Homo sapiens: one gene and its partner. The protein of the gene in region 1 purifies or fractionates together with the protein of each later gene. This does not show direct contact. Each region holds a gene or a part of one and is shown in the gene's direction. Other genes may lie near its edges.

What was found. The genes of interacting proteins can lie anywhere in the genome.
Region 2: the proteins of TMED10 (region 1) and GOLGB1 purify together in Homo sapiens (affinity purification with mass spectrometry; 4 studies listed by BioGRID and IntAct, with this or other methods). This does not show direct contact.

The regions. Positions count from the first base shown.
Region 1 is NC_000014.9:75,145,600-75,152,626, reverse strand, and holds part of TMED10 (transmembrane emp24 domain-containing protein 10 precursor), read left to right. Parts: intron 1-483; coding exon 484-595; intron 596-4,889; coding exon 4,890-4,963; intron 4,964-7,027. UniProt on the Homo sapiens protein: Cargo receptor involved in protein vesicular trafficking and quality control in the endoplasmic reticulum (ER) and Golgi.
Region 2 is NC_000003.12:121,690,729-121,697,755, reverse strand, and holds part of GOLGB1 (golgin subfamily B member 1), read left to right. Parts: coding exon 1-4,015; intron 4,016-5,174; coding exon 5,175-7,027. UniProt on the Homo sapiens protein: May participate in forming intercisternal cross-bridges of the Golgi complex.

The DNA.
Region 1 (7,027 bases):
TCCTTGTATTGTGTGTCCTAATTTTATTCTCCACCCACACCCCTTCCCCATCAAATTTGTTTTATAGAATAAATGTGTTTTTATATATCTTTGTCCCTCTTGTATAATCTTTTGATAATTGTCTACTTTCATTTTTGTGACATGTTCCTCTATGCGGAATGATACTAGTGAGTTTTTGCCAATAAATCCAATGTATGTAACTTGGAGCATTAGCTAGATTAACTTTTTGGTATGGTAAGACATCCTATAGCAGCAACAGATTTTAGCCCACAGTGTGATTAGGCTATTTGAATGGATGAAATTTGCTGTATTTGGATTTAATCTTCTAATCCAGTTTTTGTCTTTGGGGATGGTTGGAACATAGTCATCATAATGAGAACTATCAATTGTCTTTCATAGATAGTGTCTCTATCTTCCCAGTTTCTGTAAGTTCTCTTCCTGAGTGTTATTTGCTGCCTATTCTTACTACTTTTCTTATTTTAGATCACAGATTCTGCTGGCCATATTCTCTACTCCAAAGAGGATGCAACCAAGGGGAAATTTGCCTTTACCACTGAAGATTATGACATGTTTGAAGTGTGTTTTGAGAGCAAGGGTGAGTAATCAAGAGTGTTTCTCTGGATTAAGAATCTTCTCCAACTCTAATGCTCCTTAATACAGTCAGCACTTAATATCTAGTTTCATTTGTATTCTTTATTTATTCTGATTTGGAGACCTGTTACCTTGTAGTCTTTGGAGCACCTTTTAAAAGGTCGACTACATGGAATAAAAGATTGAATAGGTGGAACAGAGAGAATTTTTAGGGCAGTAAAAATATTCTGTATGATACTGTAATAGTGGATACATGTCATTATATGGTTGTCCGAACATTACATTTGGAATGTACACCAAGAGTGAATCCTAATGTAAACTGTGGACTTTGGTAGATAGTGATGTGTCCATGTAGGTTCATCATTTGTAATGAATGTACCACTCTGGTGGGAAATGGTGATAATGGGGGAGGCTATGCATATGTAAGAGGAAGGGGGATATGGGAAATCTTTGTGCCTTCCTCTCAGTTTTGTTGTGAACCTAAAACTGCTCTAACAAAGTGAAGTCTTAAAAAAAAGGCTGGGCATGGTGGCTCATGCCTGTAATCCCAGCACTTTGGGAGGCCAAGGCAGGCAGATCACTGAAGGTTAGGAGTTTGAGACCAGCCTGGCCAACATGGTGAAACCCTGTCTCTACTAAAAATACAAAATTAGCTGGGCATGGTGGCTCGTGCCTGTAACCCTAGCTGCTCAGGAGGCTGAGGCAGGAGAATCACTTAAACCCAGGAGGTGGAGGTTGCAGTGAGCAAGATTGTGTCACTGCACTCCAGCCTGGGTGACAGAGTGAGACTCCATCTCAAAAAAATAAACAACAACAACAACAAAAAAAACTGGCCGGGCGCAGTGACTCACGCTTGTAATCCCAGCAGTTGGGAGGCCGAGGCGGGCGGATCACCTGAGGCCAGGAGTTTGAGACCAGCCTGGCCAACATGGCGAAACCCCATCTCTACTAAAAATACAAAAATTAGCCAGATGTGGTGGTGGCACATGCCTGTAATCCCAGCTACTCGGGAGGCTGAGGCAGGAGAATTGTTTGAACCCAGGAGGCAGAGATTGCAGTGAGCCAAGATCGTACCACTGCACTGCAGCCTGGGTGACAGAGCGAGACTCTGTCTCAAAACAAACAAAAAGGATTGTCTGTTTGCCAGGCAAATGCAGAGAGAAAAATTATGAAGGGTCCTTTTACAAAGGAGACTCTTTAGGGCTATGATGTCAGCTAAGAGGATAGGCTGACAGTTCTATGCAAGAGACTGTATAGTCTGGACTCGACCATTCTGAGAAATGGTGGTTAGGTGATTTCGTTGTGCAAATATTAAGTGTACTTACACAAACCTAGATGTTATAGCCTACTACCCACCTCGGCTATATGGTATAGCCTACTACTGCTCCTAGGCTACAAAGCTGTAAAGCATGTGACTGTACTGAATACTGTAGGCAGTTAGAACACAATGCTATTTGTGTATCTAAACATAGAAAAGATATAGTAAAAATACAGTATTATAATAATCTTATGGGACCACCTTCATATATGCAGTCTGTCCTCGACTGAACTGTCTTCATGTAGTGCATGACTGTACTGTGCTGTGACAATCAGGGAGGTAGTTGGAAGACCTTGTAAGAAAGAAGATATCCTGATCATTTGGACCAGGTGGGGCTGTGAACTGCTTAAGTTTCACAACTTTTTCAATGAGGAAGTACATCTTCCATGGACAATGTCGTAATCAGGATTACACATTGGATTTGGGAGAACAGAACACTCTGGGTGCCACATTTTGTTTTGTTTTGTTTGAAGACTTGTTGTTTTCATGCTCAGAAGACACATGTGACTTGTCTTACTTTGTTCTCAGTCTTACCCTGTGCAGTCTTATTTATATTTCTCTTGCTTTCGAGTTAATCTTTCCAGTCTATCCAAAAGAAGTCCTTTTTTTGTGTGTGTGTGAAACAAGAGTCTTGCTCTGTCACCCAGGCTGGAGTGCAGTGGTGCGATCTTGGCTCACTGCAACTTTACCGGGTTCAAGTGATTCTCATGCCTCAGCCTCCGGAGTAGCTGGAACTACAGGCACGCACCACTGCGCCTGGCTAATTTGTGTATTTTTAGTAGAGACGGGTTTCATCATGTTGGCCAAGCTGGTCTCGAACTCGAACCTCAAGAGATCCACCTGCCTTGGCCTCCCAAAGTGCTGGGATTACAGGCATGAGCCACCGTGCCCATCCCAAAAGAAGTTCTTTACTGTCTTTCAAGCATGCCATACTCCGATTTTAATATCTGAGCCTTTGCTCATGCTTTGCCGTCTGCCTAGAGTACTTTGCCTAAGTCCTGCCTTTAGGTGTTCCCTTTTTAGTGAAGTCTGTCCACAACTACAATCTTCTCTCCTCTTCCCTTTGCTCCATATTGGAATTGTCTGAACCAGTTCCTTTGGCTTAAACTTTTACAGTGCTTTGCATTTTCACCATAGTTGTTTTGTGTATATGTCTTAGATCCCAATTGAATTATTTGAAGGCAGGGATTGTATCCTGGCTTAGTCCATTTTGTGCTGCTATAACAGAACATCGCAGAGTGGGTATAAACAGTAGAAATTTGTTTGGTTCATGGTTCTGGAGTCTGGAAAGTCCAAGATCAAGGGGCCACATCTGGTGAGGGCCTTTTTGCTGTGTCACAATAACATGGCAGAAGGTATCACATGGCAAGAGAATGCACAGGAGAGCAAGAAGGGGCTGAACTCACTTTTATAACAAACCTACTTCTATGATAATGACATTAAATCTATTGATGAGGGCAGAGCCCCATGACCTAGTCAATTCTTAAAGGTCCTACTTCTCCGCCAGGCACAGTGGCTCATGCCTATAATCCCAGCACTTTGGGAGGCTGAGGCAGGAGGATCGCTTGAGCCCAGGAGTTCCAGATCAGCCTGGACAGTATAGCGAGACCCTGTCTCTACAAAAAATACAAAAATTACCTGGGTGTGGTGGCTCACGCCTGTAGTCCCAGCTACTTGAAAGACTGAAGTGGGAGGATTGCTTGAGCCCAGGAGTTCGAGGCTACAGTGAGCCATGATGGTGCGTGCCACTGCACTCCAGCTTGGAAGACAAGAGTAAGAACCTGTCTCAAAAAATTTTTTTTAATTAAATAAATAAAATTAAAGGTTTTACCTCTCAACACTGTTGCATTGGGGATTAAGTTTCCAACACATGAACTTTGAGAGGGGCACATCGAAGCCGTAGCATATCTCTTTAAAATCTCCAGCACAGTTTTAGTACTTAGTGAGTTTTCAATGAGTAGTTATTGAATTGACTTCAGTTCATTTCAGAAAACTTCCAGTGTCTCTCAGGCATCAGAGGGTACAGTACCATTCAGTGTGGCTTATGGTTTCAGGAACCCCAGTGCTTCAGTGGCACTGTTTCCCACAACTTCTAATTTCATGCAGGCAGTTGTAAATTTTATAACTAGGTGAATTCCAGGGGATTGGGGCTGAACAGTTTTCTGGGGCTCCTTGGGTCTTTTCCTTTCTCCTACTTGATGATTTAAGATTAGAATGCTTCTTTGATCCAGCTGAATCAGATTGACTCTTCTAACATGAACTCTATTATAAGAAGCATCCCTGAGATTTGAACACTTAAAGTTGTTTTTTTTTTTTCCTTGAGCTGTTGTAACTCTTTTAAGGGCTTAGTGGGAATAGCTCTATGACATTGTACTCCTACTGAACTAGGCCATACATTGATCAAAATGTTTGAATTAAAGTGGAATATTAGATAAAACTTATGTTCTTTTCAGTACTCAGATTTATATTAAGTAAATCCAAGCTTAGCACATATCCAATAATCCTAATTCATCATGGCCTTCCCTCAAAATTTGACAGGGCAACCTTTTCAGATGTGGAAATACACATTTTCAGCCGAAGTTGTTGCCTACTATCTCTTGATTTATATGCCACTCAATTTCACACTGTTTTGATTTTTGAGTTTTATTTCCCAATTCAATAAGCCTGTGTGGTTTCCCTTCTGTTCTGTTCCTCTGTAGTACCAGTTGCAGTATCTTGTGTCCTTGCCTGCTCAGAGATGTTTGCCAGCAGCATGTTCTTGTTGCTTTCCGGCACCCCACACAGATAGAGGCTTTGTCTGGAATGTTTGTGATTTTAGCCAGAGCCAGGAATTTTCTGCAACTGAGCAGGGGGAGGAGTTGTGGCTGTTTCCCTCTATTGAGAGGGTAGGGGTTCTGTAGAGGGAGGGCGGGCGGGTGGGTGGGTAATTTCCCAGAATTTTAAGTATTTCACACAATGATTCCTTTGATTTCTTTCTCAGGAACAGGGCGGATACCTGACCAACTCGTGATCCTAGACATGAAGCATGGAGTGGAGGCGAAAAATTACGAAGAGGTATGTCCTGCTCTAACAGCCAGAGGAGGCAGCAGTGTGCTATGCTGTGAGGTTTCTGTGACCTCGGCAGGCCAACAGGCTGTGCTTTGCCCAAAGGGCTGTGGTTTCTTAGCAGTCTTGTGACAGCCAGCCATGATCTTACTGATACAAAAAGTGGTATTAACAGCCTTAGCCGGGCGCGGTGGCTCACTCCTGTAATCCCAGCACTTTGGGAGGCCAAGGCGGGTGGATCGCCTGAGGTCAGGAGTTCGATACCAGCCTGGTCAACATGGTGACACCAAGTTTCTACTAAAAATACAAAAATTAGCCAGGAGTGGTGGCGTGCGCCTGTAATCCCAGCTAGTCTACTCGGGAGGCTGAGGCAGGAGAATTGCTGGAACCTGGGGGGCAGAGGCTGCAGTGAGCCGAGATCGTGCCACTGCACTCCAGCCTGGGCGACAGGGCAAGGCTCCATCTCAAAAAAAAAAAAAAAAAAAAACAGCCTTGAAGAATAATTCTGGCTGTGCTGTCAGCCAAAGACTGAACAAACTGTCCCACAGAATGTTGGTTTGATAAAACACTGAAGCATATGGCATTAGTTCTCTTGAACTGTGTGTGTGTAGAGAGAGATATTTTAAATTTTTTAAAGCTGGAATTCAGTTATTTGTTAATGCCCAAGGTTAAGAAAAGTGATTTGTTTTTAATTCCTAAGACTTTTTCCCCAAGACCAACAGTTGTATATCTATCTATCTATCTATCTATCTATCTATCTATCTGGGGCATGGATTCAGTGCTGTTTAGTCTTGAACAACTGTTTTGTGTTTGGGAAATAACAATAGTCAAAGATAGTTTTTAGTTAAAATAATTTCAAACTTTCAAGGAAGAGGGCAGGATGGAGGAAAAAGCTGCAAGAGACTAGGAATGGTGATAATAGAAATTTGATGCTGATAAGAAGTTATTTATTATAGACTAATAAAAACTGACACTTATTTGGGTGACAGGGAGATGGAGGTGTACACAGAATGAGGAGAAGGACAACAGCCTTTTTCATCTCTGCGAGACTTGGGGGCAGCACAAAAGGGTTCTTCAAATGAAGGGCACCTTTGAAAAACCACAAGAACTATTTAAGACTAGATAATTGATCTTTACAGAAAGATAAGAGTATTTTTACCCAACAAAACAGTACGTAAGGGCATGAAGGAGGAGTGGGGTACAGGAAATAGAATGGGCTTTTGAAGAATGCAAACTAAGTAAATGAAGGAAAATTGGTTTAAGTGATTTAGGAAAATTGTCTAGGAATAGTGGAACAGAAGTTGCTCTCTCTTTGGACAGCACTTTGGAAGGGAAATATCCTAAAATGGAAGAAGATTGGAAATGACTGGTTAATTCTGCAACAGGAAGTAGTACAACAGTTGCAGCTCTTTCCTTGTTCAAATCCTCAATTGAATGAAACTAGGTAGCGTTATTTAGAGGCAGTAAATAGGAGCAAGTGATACAGTTGTGAATGGGAGACAGTTTCCGGTAGAGAATTTTCAATTGTTTGTTTCTGTTTCCAGGCTAGTTTAATTTAAATAAATAAAACAAGAAGACCTCTTTATTTGATGAACTTGAGTAAATTGAAAAATTTTTTTAAACCTTCATGATTCAGAAGAATCTTAATTATATTTAAATAAGATTATGTTAAAGTGCTTTTATAAGATATAAAACACTAGGGAGAATGTTCTCATTATTATAAGGTAGAAGAATAGGTAAAATGATTTCCAGTTTGTGGTTACTGCTTCTGTTCCCGAACTGTGGACCATTCTCAGTTGAATTTGTACTCTGTGGAATTTTACCTATTGTAATCTTTTTCTCCAACATGATGCCTGTCATTAAGGGTATTTATTTATTTATTTATTGAGATGGAGTCTCGCTTGGTTGCCCAGGCTGGAGTGCAGTGGCGGGATCTCTGCTCACTGCAAGCTCCGCCTCCCGGGTTCACGCCATTCTCCTGCCTCAGCCTCCCGAGTAGCTGGGACTACAGGCACCCATCACCACGCCCAGCTAATTTTTTGTATTTTTAGTAGAGACGGGGTTTCACCATGT
Region 2 (7,027 bases), on another chromosome or scaffold:
ATGAAGAGAAGTTTTCTCTTGGGGTTGAAATTAAGACTCTTAAAGAACAGCTAAATTTATTATCCAGAGCTGAGGAAGCAAAAAAAGAGCAGGTGGAAGAAGATAATGAAGTTTCTTCTGGCCTTAAACAAAATTATGATGAGATGAGCCCAGCAGGACAAATAAGTAAGGAAGAACTTCAGCATGAATTTGACCTTCTGAAGAAAGAAAATGAGCAGAGAAAGAGAAAGCTCCAGGCAGCTCTTATTAACAGAAAGGAGCTTCTGCAAAGAGTCAGTAGATTGGAAGAAGAATTAGCCAACTTGAAAGATGAATCTAAGAAAGAAATCCCACTCAGTGAGACTGAGAGGGGAGAAGTGGAAGAAGATAAAGAAAACAAAGAATACTCAGAAAAATGTGTGACTTCTAAGTGCCAAGAAATAGAAATTTATTTAAAACAGACAATATCTGAGAAAGAAGTGGAACTACAGCATATAAGGAAGGATTTGGAAGAAAAGCTGGCAGCTGAAGAGCAATTCCAGGCTCTGGTCAAACAGATGAATCAGACCTTGCAAGATAAAACAAACCAAATAGATTTGCTCCAAGCAGAAATCAGTGAAAACCAAGCAATTATCCAGAAGTTAATCACAAGTAACACGGATGCAAGTGATGGGGACTCCGTAGCACTTGTAAAGGAAACAGTGGTGATAAGTCCACCTTGTACAGGTAGTAGTGAACACTGGAAACCAGAACTAGAAGAAAAGATACTGGCCCTTGAAAAAGAAAAGGAGCAACTTCAAAAGAAGCTACAGGAAGCCTTAACCTCCCGCAAGGCAATTCTTAAAAAGGCACAGGAGAAAGAAAGACATCTCAGGGAGGAGCTAAAGCAACAGAAAGATGACTATAATCGCTTGCAAGAACAGTTTGATGAGCAAAGCAAGGAAAATGAGAATATTGGAGACCAGCTAAGGCAACTCCAGATTCAAGTAAGGGAATCCATAGACGGAAAACTCCCAAGCACAGACCAGCAGGAATCGTGTTCTTCCACTCCAGGTTTAGAAGAACCTTTATTCAAAGCCACAGAACAGCATCACACTCAACCTGTTTTAGAGTCCAACTTGTGCCCAGACTGGCCTTCTCATTCTGAAGATGCGAGTGCTCTGCAGGGCGGAACTTCTGTTGCCCAGATTAAGGCCCAGCTGAAGGAAATAGAGGCTGAGAAAGTAGAGTTAGAATTGAAAGTTAGTTCTACAACAAGTGAGCTTACTAAAAAATCAGAAGAGGTATTTCAGTTACAAGAGCAGATAAATAAACAGGGTTTAGAAATCGAGAGTCTAAAGACAGTATCCCATGAAGCTGAAGTCCATGCCGAAAGCCTGCAGCAGAAATTGGAAAGCAGCCAACTACAAATTGCTGGCCTAGAACATCTAAGAGAATTGCAACCTAAACTGGATGAACTGCAAAAACTCATAAGCAAAAAGGAAGAAGACGTTAGCTACCTTTCTGGACAACTTAGTGAGAAAGAAGCAGCTCTCACTAAAATACAGACAGAGATAATAGAACAAGAAGATTTAATTAAGGCTCTGCATACACAGCTAGAAATGCAAGCCAAAGAGCATGATGAGAGGATAAAGCAGCTACAGGTGGAACTTTGTGAAATGAAGCAAAAACCAGAAGAGATTGGAGAAGAAAGTAGAGCAAAGCAACAAATACAAAGGAAACTGCAAGCTGCCCTTATTTCCCGAAAAGAAGCACTAAAAGAAAACAAAAGTCTCCAAGAGGAATTGTCTTTGGCCAGAGGTACCATTGAACGTCTCACCAAGTCTCTGGCAGATGTGGAAAGCCAAGTTTCTGCTCAAAATAAAGAAAAAGATACGGTCTTAGGAAGGTTAGCTCTTCTTCAAGAAGAAAGAGACAAACTCATTACAGAAATGGACAGGTCTTTATTGGAAAATCAGAGTCTCAGCAGCTCCTGTGAAAGTCTAAAACTAGCTCTAGAGGGTCTTACTGAAGACAAGGAAAAGTTAGTGAAGGAAATTGAATCTTTGAAATCTTCTAAGATTGCAGAAAGTACTGAGTGGCAAGAGAAACACAAGGAGCTACAAAAAGAGTATGAAATTCTTCTGCAGTCCTATGAGAATGTTAGTAATGAAGCAGAAAGGATTCAGCATGTGGTGGAAGCTGTGAGGCAAGAGAAACAAGAACTGTATGGCAAGTTAAGAAGCACAGAGGCAAACAAGAAGGAGACAGAAAAGCAGTTGCAGGAAGCTGAGCAAGAAATGGAGGAAATGAAAGAAAAGATGAGAAAGTTTGCTAAATCTAAACAGCAGAAAATCCTAGAGCTGGAAGAAGAGAATGACCGGCTTAGGGCAGAGGTGCACCCTGCAGGAGATACAGCTAAAGAGTGTATGGAAACACTTCTTTCTTCCAATGCCAGCATGAAGGAAGAACTTGAAAGGGTCAAAATGGAGTATGAAACCCTTTCTAAGAAGTTTCAGTCTTTAATGTCTGAGAAAGACTCTCTAAGTGAAGAGGTTCAAGATTTAAAGCATCAGATAGAAGGTAATGTATCTAAACAAGCTAACCTAGAGGCCACCGAGAAACATGATAACCAAACGAATGTCACTGAAGAGGGAACACAGTCTATACCAGGTGAGACTGAAGAGCAAGACTCTCTGAGTATGAGCACAAGACCTACATGTTCAGAATCGGTTCCATCAGCGAAGAGTGCCAACCCTGCTGTAAGTAAGGATTTCAGCTCACATGATGAAATTAATAACTACCTACAGCAGATTGATCAGCTCAAAGAAAGAATTGCTGGATTAGAGGAGGAGAAGCAGAAAAACAAGGAATTTAGCCAGACTTTAGAAAATGAGAAAAATACCTTACTGAGTCAGATATCAACAAAGGATGGTGAACTAAAAATGCTTCAGGAGGAAGTAACCAAAATGAACCTGTTAAATCAGCAAATCCAAGAAGAACTCTCCAGAGTTACCAAACTAAAGGAGACAGCAGAAGAAGAGAAAGATGATTTGGAAGAGAGGCTTATGAATCAATTAGCAGAACTTAATGGAAGCATTGGGAATTACTGTCAGGATGTTACAGATGCCCAAATAAAAAATGAGCTATTGGAATCTGAAATGAAGAACCTTAAAAAGTGTGTGAGTGAATTGGAAGAAGAAAAGCAGCAGTTAGTCAAGGAAAAAACTAAGGTGGAATCAGAAATACGAAAGGAATATTTGGAGAAAATACAAGGTGCTCAGAAAGAACCCGGAAATAAAAGCCATGCAAAGGAACTTCAGGAACTGTTAAAAGAAAAACAACAAGAAGTAAAGCAGCTACAGAAGGACTGCATCAGGTATCAAGAGAAAATTAGTGCTCTGGAGAGAACTGTTAAAGCTCTAGAATTTGTTCAAACTGAATCTCAAAAAGATTTGGAAATAACCAAAGAAAATCTGGCTCAAGCAGTTGAACACCGCAAAAAGGCACAAGCAGAATTAGCTAGCTTCAAAGTCCTGCTAGATGACACTCAAAGTGAAGCAGCAAGGGTCCTAGCAGACAATCTCAAGTTGAAAAAGGAACTTCAGTCAAATAAAGAATCAGTTAAAAGCCAGATGAAACAAAAGGATGAAGATCTTGAGCGAAGACTGGAACAGGCAGAAGAGAAGCACCTGAAAGAGAAGAAGAATATGCAAGAGAAACTGGATGCTTTGCGCAGAGAAAAAGTCCACTTGGAAGAGACAATTGGAGAGATTCAGGTTACTTTGAACAAGAAAGACAAGGAAGTTCAGCAACTTCAGGAAAACTTGGACAGTACTGTGACCCAGCTTGCAGCCTTTACTAAGAGCATGTCTTCCCTCCAGGATGATCGTGACAGGGTGATAGATGAAGCTAAGAAATGGGAGAGGAAGTTTAGTGATGCGATTCAAAGCAAAGAAGAAGAAATTAGACTCAAAGAAGATAATTGCAGTGTTCTAAAGGATCAACTTAGACAGATGTCCATCCATATGGAAGAATTAAAGATTAACATTTCCAGGTAAATGAGTAGTGAATTTTTCCTCCTCCAGAGGTAACTTCAAGCAAAGAAAGTCTCTAAACTATTTCTGTTTCCTTTTAGACAATGGGACTAATTTTGGCATAAATGTCCATGGAAGATATATTCTCTCTCACTTCTGACTTTTTTTTGGCAAACAACAATCCTGCTACAACTGCATGAACATGAAAAGTTCGCATCTTCTCTTCCCATCTTTCTATTGAGAGATTTCTGTACTTCTGTTTTGTTTTGTTTAAGATGGAGTCTTGCTCTTGTCACCCAGGCTGGAATGCAATGGCACGATTTTGGCTCACTGCAACCTCTGCCTCCTGGGTTCAAGCAATTCTCCTGCCTCAGCCTCCCGAGTAGCTGGGATTACAGGAGCCTACCAACACGCCCAGCTAATTTTTTGTATTTTTAGTAGAGAGGGGGTTTCACCATGTTGGCCAGGCTGGTCTCGAACTCCTGACCTCAGGTGATCCACCCACCTCGGCCTCCCAAAGTGCTGGGATTACAGGCATGAGCCATTGCACCTGGCCTCTGTATTTCTTTTCATTTCCATTTCAACTACTCTTGCCTGGATTTTTACCACAGTACTCTCAAATTAATTGTCTAGTCTCGTCTTTTCTTCTTCCTTTAGTCCACATTAATTCATACTGCATATACCTCTTAGAGTTATTTTTTCTCAAATTTCAATTTTCTGTCACTTTTTAATCTATAGAACTAATAATGTCTCTCATCCTTTGTATTCCTTACTTCCAATAGGACCCTTCTGTTCTAAAACAGATTTTCTCACTGTCTTTCATATCAAGATTATCCCTTAGAGAAGCCAAACGTTAGCTTGTCTGGAGCAAAGTAGAATAAAATAGGAGAAAATGTTACTTTTCAGTGTTGAAAACCATGTCACTAAAATAAGTGACATATTTTGGAGTTTATGACTTAAATATATGAACCCTTAAGTATGATATACCTTTAATACATAGCACTCAGTAGATAAACATGTAGGTGCAGAGAATTAATACCTCTTCAGTAAAATATTTAACACCTGTTATGAATGTTAATTCATTTGTAAATCTATTGAGTACATGTTATAGTATTTGTTCCTTGGGAAACACAGTTTTTTTCTTGAAATCTGTAACTAATGACCTTCTCTCTGTTTCAGGCTTGAACATGACAAGCAGATTTGGGAGTCCAAGGCCCAGACAGAGGTCCAGCTTCAGCAGAAGGTCTGTGATACTCTACAGGGGGAAAACAAAGAACTTTTGTCCCAGCTAGAAGAGACACGCCACCTATACCACAGTTCTCAGAATGAATTAGCTAAGTTGGAATCAGAACTTAAGAGTCTCAAAGACCAGTTGACTGATTTAAGTAACTCTTTAGAAAAATGTAAGGAACAAAAAGGAAACTTGGAAGGGATCATAAGGCAGCAAGAGGCTGATATTCAAAATTCTAAGTTCAGTTATGAACAACTGGAGACTGATCTTCAGGCCTCCAGAGAACTGACCAGTAGGCTGCATGAAGAAATAAATATGAAAGAGCAAAAGATTATAAGCCTGCTTTCTGGCAAGGAAGAGGCAATCCAAGTAGCTATTGCTGAACTGCGTCAGCAACATGATAAAGAAATTAAAGAGCTGGAAAACCTGCTGTCCCAGGAGGAAGAGGAGAATATTGTTTTAGAAGAGGAGAACAAAAAGGCTGTTGATAAAACCAATCAGCTTATGGAAACACTGAAAACCATCAAAAAGGAAAACATTCAGCAAAAGGCACAGTTGGATTCCTTTGTTAAATCCATGTCTTCTCTCCAAAATGATCGAGACCGCATAGTGGGTGACTATCAACAGCTGGAAGAGCGACATCTCTCTATAATCTTGGAAAAAGACCAACTCATCCAAGAGGCTGCTGCAGAGAATAATAAGCTTAAAGAAGAAATACGAGGCTTGAGAAGTCATATGGATGATCTCAATTCTGAGAATGCCAAGCTAGATGCAGAACTGATCCAATATAGAGAAGACCTGAACCAAGTGATAACAATAAAGGACAGCCAACAAAAGCAGCTTCTTGAAGTTCAACTTCAGCAAAATAAGGAGCTGGAAAATAAATATGCTAAATTAGAAGAAAAGCTGAAGGAATCTGAGGAAGCAAATGAGGATCTGCGGAGGTCCTTTAATGCCCTACAAGAAGAGAAACAAGATTTATCTAAAGAGATTGAGAGTTTGAAAGTATCTATATCCCAGCTAACAAGACAAGTAACAGCCTTGCAAGAAGAAGGTACTTTAGGACTCTATCATGCCCAGTTAAAAGTAAAAGAAGAAGAGGTACACAGGTTAAGTGCTTTGTTTTCCTCCTCTCAAAAGAGAATTGCAGAACTGGAAGAAGAATTGGTTTGTGTTCAAAAGGAAGCTGCCAAGAAGGTAGGTGAAATTGAAGATAAACTGAAGAAAGAATTAAAGCATCTTCATCATGATGCAGGGATAATGAGAAATGAAACTGAAACAGCAGAAGAGAGAGTGGCAGAGCTAGCAAGAGATTTGGTGGAGATGGAACAGAAATTACTCATGGTCACCAAAGAAAATAAAGGTCTCACAGCACAAATTCAGTCTTTTGGAAGGTCTATGAGTTCCTTGCAAAATAGTAGAGATCATGCCAATGAGGAACTTGATGAACTGAAAAGGAAATATGATGCCAGTCTGAAGGAATTGGCACAGTTGAAAGAACAGGGACTCTTAAACAGAGAGAGAGATGCTCTTCTTTCTGAAACCGCCTTTTCAATGAACTCCACTGAGGAGAATAGCTTGTCTCACCTTGAGAAACTTAACCAACAGCTCCTATCCAAAGATGAGCAATTGCTTCACTTGTCCTCACAACTAGAAGATTCTTATAACCAAGTGCAGTCCTTTTCCAAGGCTATGGCCAGTCTGCAGAATGAGAGAGATCACCTGTGGAATGAGCTGGAGAAATTTCGAAAGTCAGAGGAAGGGAAGCAGAGGTCTGCAGCTCAGCCTTCCACCAGCCCAG